3 separate regions of the Homo sapiens genome follow, and all the other regions are linked to region 3. The links come from fine-mapping of genetic effects on gene expression. A gene starts in region 3. Each other region holds a variant in brackets. All regions are shown on one strand. Distances are between the middles of the regions.

Region 1 (2,845 bases), 39 kb before region 3:
TCACAGTTCAAACTCAACCCAGTGCTGGTAATTTGACATATTTGTTTAGAATCTTGGATTCTCTCTCTCTCCTAATTTACCAAAACAAGCAAATAAATGGACAGGAAAACAAATTAAAGGAGGCCTTTTTCCTCTTCTTTCACTCTCATTCTTTAAGGACAGGAATATAGCCCTATTTGCCAGTTTCACAACTTAACCTCTAACTTAATGACCTAACCACACAAATTACTAACTTGCTGTGAGGCTCCTGGAAAGCTGCTCAAGACCTCTGGGTCTCAGTCTCCTCACCAGATAGACAAGGAAGCTAAATGAAATGACCTCTGAATTCTTTTCCAAGACTAACACTTAAGGATCTAGGGAAGAGGGAATTTCACAGTCTTCCTCTTGCTCTACACCAGATGTGTACTGTGACCTGACTTGACTACAGTACATGGCAATTTTTAGTGATGCTTATAATAAAAATAGGGCTAATATTATTGGTGCCATGTGCTTTGCTGAGCAGGCCCTAAGCTTGATACGTGCCAATACTGTGACTGGCCACTGAAAAAAATGAGCATTTCAGACTGTCCTGTGAGTCTCCGTATGAGGGAGTCTGTGCACACTGTGCAGCAGCCAGACAACTCACAGCCAATAATGCCACATCCAGCCACAGGGGTGTATTCTGGGTTGTGTGGATGGGGGATGGGAAGTAGAGACTCCAGGGTAAGAGAGACGCCCTGAGGTCAGAGACAGGAAGATGTTCTATATAACAGGAGAGAAAGCCTGGTACCAGGAAATAGGTTACACTCTGGCTTCTCTGGCTGAGTGACTTCACCACCACCAGCCTTGCTCTCCTCCTCTGTGTAATAAGGACACCAATTCCTACCATGCCTCCAGTGTGAGGGGCACCAAATGAGGTAATTGGTGAGCCATGTGTGAAAGCTGCTCTACAAAGAGCTTTACAAACCAAACTATTCTACAAATATTGTGTTATTATCCTATATAAAAAACAGAGACCTGTGAAGTTCATGGCCCGGGGAAAAAAATATTTAAAAGAGACCATGGTATCTTCAAATACATTAAAACAAAAGGTTGATGTGAATAAGAATATCAGAGTGATTCTACATGGCCTCAAAGCCAACGCCGGGGCTAAGGAGGCATCAGAGCCTTAGCATCTGACCAGGGCTAGTAAACGTCTGTGCCAACCTCTAAGATCCCGTGAAGCTCTGTCTCTCAATAAGATAATTCACAGGCCCAACTCTCAGCTTTAGAAAGTATCATCATAACTAGAGGATGGGGCTGGGTGTGGTGGCTCACACCTGTAAATCCCAGCACT[T/G]TGGGAGGCCGAGGCGGGCGGATCACTTGAGGTCAAGAGGTCGAGACAGGCCTGGCCAATGTGGCAAAACTAGTCTCTCCTAAAACACAAAAACTAGCTGGGCATGGTGGCACACGCATGTAGTCTCCAGCTACTTGGTAGGCTAAGGCAGGAGAATTGCTTGAACCCGGGAGGCAGAGATTGCAGTGAACCAAGATGGTGCCATTGCACTCCAGCCTGGGCGACAGAGTGAGACTCTGTCTCAAAAAAATAAAAATAAAAAAATACCTAAAGGGTGGGCAAGCTGTGACCCTGGGCAGGTGGGAGCCAATGGCACTGCTGTGTTGCCAGTGCTCCTGAGGACTGCTCACAGGGGATTGCCTTCTGCCAAGTCCAAACCAGGAAGCTATCACACCCCATCCGGAATGTCTTCTGCTGTCCTAGGCACCATGTCCACGGACAAAGATTCTGCTTCCAGGCAGGGCCTGGCTCCACGAAGCTGAAGTCATGTTCCCAGAGCCTGTGTCTGAATCCCTGACTCAAAGAGAGAAACAGCCATCTCATATTTTGTGGTTTCTTTGAGCCAAAGGTATTTAAAAGGCAGAGAAAGCCAAGACAATCAATTTGGGGTCCACTCCCCTTGAAGTTCCCCTTTGTTCCTGGGAGAGGATGAATTAAGGACTTGTACTCTCTCTAGCTCAAGACTTTCCCATGACCTCTTCCACTCTAATTCCCCTTCACATCACGGGGGGACCCTAAGCTACTCTTGGATTTTTTCCTAGCCCGAATATTATAGAAGAAAGCAGTATCTATCCCCTACTAGGTAGATGGGAAAGAAACAGAGTGCCCTGTCCTACCCCAAAACAGTACCTTCTTAAGGTTCTTCCTGAGAGGGGTTATCCAATGACTCCCAATTAATAACACACATCTTTGCAATGAGACTTTGTAGCTCCTCCCATCAAGAGATGAAATCTAATTCTCCACTCCTTGAATCTGAGCTACCTTTGTGAGTTGCTACACAAGACAATGCAGAAGTGATGATGTGCCATTTCCAAGGCTAGGCATCAAGATACCTTGCACGCTTCCATTCTCTCAGGATTCTGCTCAAGGCTAGCCTGCAGGAAAACAGGAGCCCATGCAGAAGAGAGCCAGATCAGCTCAGTGTCCTAGCTGAAGTCCCAAAGTGAGAGAGCCAGACAAGACCAGCAAAGGTGATAAACAGCTGATGACAAACTTGAAGGAGTTCAGCTGAGACCAGAACCACCCAGCTGACTGCAGCCTAAATTGCCAAACTACAGAATCATGAGCTAAATAAATGGCTACCGTTTTAATCCAGTGCTTTCAAACTTGAACCAGCATGGAATCACCATGAGGGCTTGTTAAAACAGAGACTGTTAAGCCCACCCTAGAGTTCTGAATCCAGCTGGTCTGTGACGGGGCCCAACAATTTGCATTTCTAGCAAGTTCCCAGGTGATGCTTCTGTCCAGGGATCAGATCTTAAGAACTGAGAATCTGAAACCACTAAATTTTGGGGTGATTTATTACACAGA
Region 2 (2,500 bases), 160 kb before region 3:
AATCCTACGGCAGCAGAGTAAGGCAGGCAACGTCCCTATGGAGGAAACAAGCTCAGAGATGCTGCCTGATTTATTCAAGCTCACAGTCATTAGGGGGCAAAGTCGGACTGAAATTCTTACACACTTGCACCTTGCTACAGTTTTAACTTTTGGGAAAATGCTTTGGGGTGCAGAGCCGCAGGTTCCATTGGACCAGCGCCCCCCAATCAGTGCTGTGCCTCTGAGCAGCTTGGCGTGGGGCACAGCCCCCAGGCGAGTGGCCCTGGGGTTTCTGCATCATCTGACAGAAGTGCCGCAGCGGCTCCAGGAATAGCTTGCGACGCGCAGTCTGTCAGGGGTGCCGTGCCAGCTCCTCACCTCGCCTCCTGCCAAGGCTCTGCTAGAAGATGCTCTGACTCCCAGAGGTGGCGCCTGAGCCTGGATGAGGGACAGAGCCAGCATCGGGGCTGACTGCAGGGGGAGAACAAGGTCCTTTCACCTTCATTCCTCAGCACCCACGTGCCCTGTGTGGCATGGTGTGAGCCCAGAGGGGTTGGTCCCCTGTTGACAAGTGGAGCTTAGCCCAGAGAGTTCTGTTATGTGAACCTGCTGGGTGGAGGCAGAGTGGCCTGGCCTACTCTTTATACCTGTGTGTCCAGGACAGTCACTTGACCTCTCTGAGCCTCAGATTTCCCATCTGTATGTTAGGCCTGAGGCTTCCTATGGAAACGTTAGCTCATAGGACCCCACACAAACTCAATGTCCCATAAATGGATGCTTCCACCCCTGTGTGGCTCTGCCCTTCCCTCCCGTCATCTTTCCTTTGCTTTTCTTTGAAAGCTGTGTGCACATCCAGCGCTCTCCCTGCTACACCACTGGCTTCCTTTCTCCAACGCAGAAAACCAAGCCGTCTAAGCAGGGCCTGCCCGCAAAGACAGTCAATGTGAGAGGCAGGGGCCAGCTGCCTCCTCCTCAGAGTCGTGGAGAAGTGCTGGATCATTCAGACCCCATAATCATAATTATTTCTCTCCTCAGTTATTGTACAGACGCCACCAGATTGGAAAAATCACTTAAAGGTTTTATTCAGTGGAAGCTTTCTTACC[A/G]AAAAAGGAGAATCATCTGAAGGCCAAAGGGACCGATTCCAAGGACCCTGTGTTGAGTGAGGGAGAAGGAGCTGGGCTGATCTGAGCAGGTAGGAGCTCTGCATCAGGCCACTCCTTCCTCCCAGTCCACACGAGAACCAAGAGTCTCTGAAGTCATCGGGATCTCTGGGCTCAAAGCATCTCTGTAAAGTGGCACTGCTTCTGTGAATTACATTCTCTCTTCCCTTCCTTGGAAAATGACCTCTAAGCAGGGGAAGGTGCAGTGAGACATGAGAACATGCCCACAGCTGAGATTTTTAAATGGCCGCAGGTGAACACAGACATCCCTCTTGAGCACGTGATTCAGAAGAGAGGCACACCCACCTCCAGTGAGCATCTACTGTGTACCAGGCACGGTGCTGAGAGCCTTGGTCACATCAGGTGTGGTAGGGGACCAAGGGAGGGGTAAGGACAGTCCCGCAGAGGTTGGAGATGTTAGCCAGGGTCACGCATAGCAGAGAGAAGGGTTGAGAGCCGCCTGACTCTGTGTCTCAGTTGCTGGGGTCACAGAATAGGAGAGCTGGTTTATAATAATGGACGCTGTGAGAAATAGCTGCCAGGGCCGGGCGCAGTGGCTCACGCCTGTAATCCCAGCACTTTGGGAGACCGAGGCAGGTTGATCACTTGAGGTCAGGAGTTCAAGACCAGCCTGGCCAACATGGCGAAACCTCATCTCTACTAAATACAAAAATTAGCCAGGCTTGGTGGCATGTACCTGTAATCCCAGCTAGCTACTCAGGACGCTGAGGCAGGAGAATCACTTGAACCTGGGAGGCAGAGGTTGCAGTGAGCCTAGATCACACCACTGCACTCCAGCCTGGGCAACAGAGCAAGACTCTGTCTCAAAAAAAAAAAAAAAGAAAAGAAAAGAAAAAAAAAAGAAAAAGAAAGAAATAGGTGCCAGGAGCCCCCAGAATATCCTTTCCTGTGAGGGTCATGTTTACAACTTACAGCCAGTGCACTTTTGCACATTTTCAAGAATGATATTTTTCTCCCTAGCAATTGCTTGTCATGATATGAAAAATCGACCCATTATCCCATTGTTTTTTATAACACATATCTGATTTTTAAAGACCCTTTTAAAGGGGAAGACAGAAAAGAAAATTACAGGTGACTTCCCCCATTCTCCTCGCTCGGTACAGCCGAATTGTTAGGAAAGGAGACTGGCACTTTGTCAGCACTAACAACGGAACACACCATTTAATTATACAAGGCTCAGGGGCTGCTCTAAGAGGGCCAAGCTGACCTGGGCTTCTGTCTAGCTTGAAAAACTTCTAGCTATTGACTTTTTGCAAGCTCCTTCACATCTCCAAGCCTCATTCGTGTATTTATTCATTCGTTCAGTCTATAATGTATTAGCTTGATGCCCAGTTACCAAC
Region 3 (2,800 bases):
GGGCTGGAGGTGAGGGCATCAGTACGCCGGGAGCTTCGGCCAGGGCTGGAGGTGAGAGGATCATTGCCTCGCCGACGCTGGGCCGGGCTGGATGCCATGGTGAAGGATTCCGATGATTCCTGCAAGAGAAGGTGCGGTTGTCAGAAACCTAGGAAGCTGGTGAGGCATGATACAGCTTCCTTTTTACCATCAGGGGCCTTCCCTTCTTTCTCTCCACCTGTGACTCTTGTCCTCCAACACACCAAACCCCTTCCAGCCTCCAGATCTTTGCCCTTGCTGTTCTCTCACCTGGAATGCTCTCAGCTGAGCAATCTGAGTCAGTGGCTTCCAAACAAATAGAAGCCAGCTCAAATATCGGGGTCACCCACATCACCGTGCTTTCTCCATGAAAAACCACTGAGGTTATGTCATTTGCCTATTTACCTGTTTACTGTCTATTATCTCCCCTTAAGCATTAGACCTATTTCAGCACACACAGTGCGCAAGGTATTGTGATAGAGATGGCATAGAAGAGCCACCAAAACAAGAGGTCTGGAACTCAGATGTGGAACAGACAGTATACAAGACAAAGGGACAAGAAGGTAATACAAAAGTAAGTGTAGTGTTTGGAACAAGGATCATTGGGAAATTAAAAAAAAAAAAAGTTTAAAGGAGTGTAGTGAAATGGGGGCCTGTCTTTTGTACGCTCAGCGCCACACAGATGGCGCCCAATAAGTATGTGTGGGGTGAATAAAGGACAGAGGCTGAACGGGCCGAGCTCGCCTTAGGGAGCCCAGGGCCCCAGGTCAGTGGTAGGTAGGCGAGTCGCCTCACGCAGGGTGCAGGCGAGAAAGTAGCTGCGCCCCAGAGCCTGGGGCCCAGCCTCACCCAGAGCGCCGCCCTGGGCCGGGGCCAGAGTACGGGAAGCGCGCAGCCTCCGCACCCATGTCCCCGGCGCCCGCCCGCCACGCGCCAGCGCGCTCACCGCCATAGCAGTACCACGATCCTCTCCGCCACTACAGCAACAACCAGGTTTCGCGCGAAAAGTGGTTCACGTGACCCACCAAAGCCCGGGAAGAGCCCTACGGAACGCGACGTCATGACGTCGGCGTCCACTGGCGACCAGAAGGGACACGGAGGGGCGGGCCAGAGGGTCCGGTCCCGCCTACAACGCCCGAGGCGCTCCGCCCAGAGCCCGGAGGTGTGCGGCCCGGCGCTGTGCGCGTGCGCTCGCCTGCGCTGTGGTGGGAGCTGGAGCGGAGGTAGAAGCTGAGGCTCCAGGGGACCCGACGACACTTGCTGGCTGCGTGACCTCGGTCACACCAGGGCCATTTTGCTGACAAGACAACAGAGGCCGGGCGCGGTGGCTCACGCCTGTAATCCCAGCACTTTGGGAAGCCGAGGTGGGCGGATCACAAGCTCAGGAGTTCGAGACCAGCCTGACTAACATGGTGAAACCCAGTCTTTACTAAAAATACAAAAATTAGTTGGGCATGGTGGCACGGGCCTGTAATCCCAGCTACTCGGGAGGCTGAGGCAGAAGAATCGCTTGAACCTGGGAGGTGGAGGTTGCGGTGAGCCGAGATCCCGCCACTGCACTCCAGCCTGGGTGACAGAGTGAGACTCCGTCTCAAAAAAAAAAAAAGACAGCAGAGGTTCAGAGCCTGGTTTTCTGACGCTTCTTACCGTCTTAGGAGCACAATGGTTTAACTTCTCCCAAAGCTCAAAGGCTCAATACTTCAAGCAGCTGGACAACTCTGGGATTTTGTAGGAGGTCACATCTGAGGCTTTAGTAGGAGTTATCTTTGCCCAGGGGAGCGAAGACGCAGGGAGGATGTTACAGATAGAAGGATGCCATGTGCAAAGCTGCAGAGGTCATGGCAGGGCCCGGATGTGCAAGCCCCTCCCTAAGAACTAACCCTAGGAGCTTATGATGCCGGGCAACAGACAAGACTTGAGGGAGAGAAAATCCGGATCAAAAAAGAGCTAGATGTTTTTCTAGAGAGTTTGACTATTCTGTATTCTGAAAGCAATGGAAGGCCATGGAAGCATTTTGAGCAGGGTGAGACGTGAACTAGTGTGGGTTTTAGAATCCCTCTGGCTGCTACCAGGTGGAAGTGGATTGAACGAGGTTGAAGGCAGCAAACGAGGAGGTTGCTGTGGTTCTTGTCTAGTTCCAGGCAGCCTTAGTGAGCAGAGGCAGGGCTGAATCGCAACCCTCTTAGCCAGGCACTTTGTGCAGTGAACAAGCATCTCTGCCTGGGACCCAGGGTAGGGAGGCAGGAGTGATGGAGAGAACTGGAAATACAAGATGTTTAGGAGGTGGAATCTTTTTTTTTTTTTTGAGACAGAGTCACTCTGTCACCCAGGCTGGAGTGCAGTGGTGCAACCTCAGCTCACTGCAACCTCCACCTCCCAAGTTCAAGCGATTCTCGTGCCTTAGCCTCCCGAGTAGCTGGGATTAGAGATGCACGCCATTGTGCCCGGTTAATTTTTGTATTTTTAGTAGAGATGGGATTTCACCATTGTTAGCTAGGCTGGTCTCCAACTCCTGACAAGTGGATCCGCCTGCCTTGGCCTCCCATAGTGCTAGGATTACAGGCGTGAGCCACCACGCCCGGCCAGGAAGTGGGGTCTATAGGTGTTGGTGATTGAGGACAGCAAAAGAGGCATGCAGGATGACACCAGGATCCTGGCTTAGCTAGGTGGATGATAGCTGAGATAGGAGCGCACAGGAAGACCAGCAATTTAAGGGGGAAGAAGATGAGTTTGTTTCTGGCTGTGCTGAATTTGGGCCGAGGGGACATATCCAGGAAGCTGT

Evidence for each region. PIP is the estimated chance that this variant, and not a neighbour inherited with it, causes the effect.
Region 1: its variant is fine-mapped to the expression of MCM2 in aorta (GTEx, PIP above 0.99). The same link has a PIP of 0.9 or more in skeletal muscle and tibial artery.
Region 2: its variant is fine-mapped to the expression of MCM2 in subcutaneous fat (GTEx, PIP 0.94).

What each region holds. Positions count from the first base shown.
Region 1 is chr3:127,635,555-127,638,399 of GRCh38, reverse strand. The region is part of intron 1 of PODXL2 (podocalyxin like 2); the gene reads right to left. Among named protein-coding and RNA genes, the nearest start is that of PODXL2, 7.8 kb to the right of the region's middle. The variant T/G (reference allele first, on the strand shown) is at 1,316.
Region 2 is chr3:127,758,406-127,760,905 of GRCh38, reverse strand. All of the region lies in intron 3 of MGLL (monoglyceride lipase), which reads left to right. Among named protein-coding and RNA genes, the nearest start is that of MGLL, 63 kb to the left of the region's middle. The variant A/G (reference allele first, on the strand shown) is at 1,083.
Region 3 is chr3:127,596,637-127,599,436 of GRCh38, reverse strand. It overlaps MCM2 (minichromosome maintenance complex component 2), which reads right to left and starts at 1,026. Exons shown (of 16, transcript NM_004526.4): 1 at 965-1,026; 2 at 1-119. The coding sequence starts at 970. It also overlaps a transcript of TPRA1 not described here. RefSeq lists a silencer at 728-887 and enhancers at 918-1,037, 391-1,348.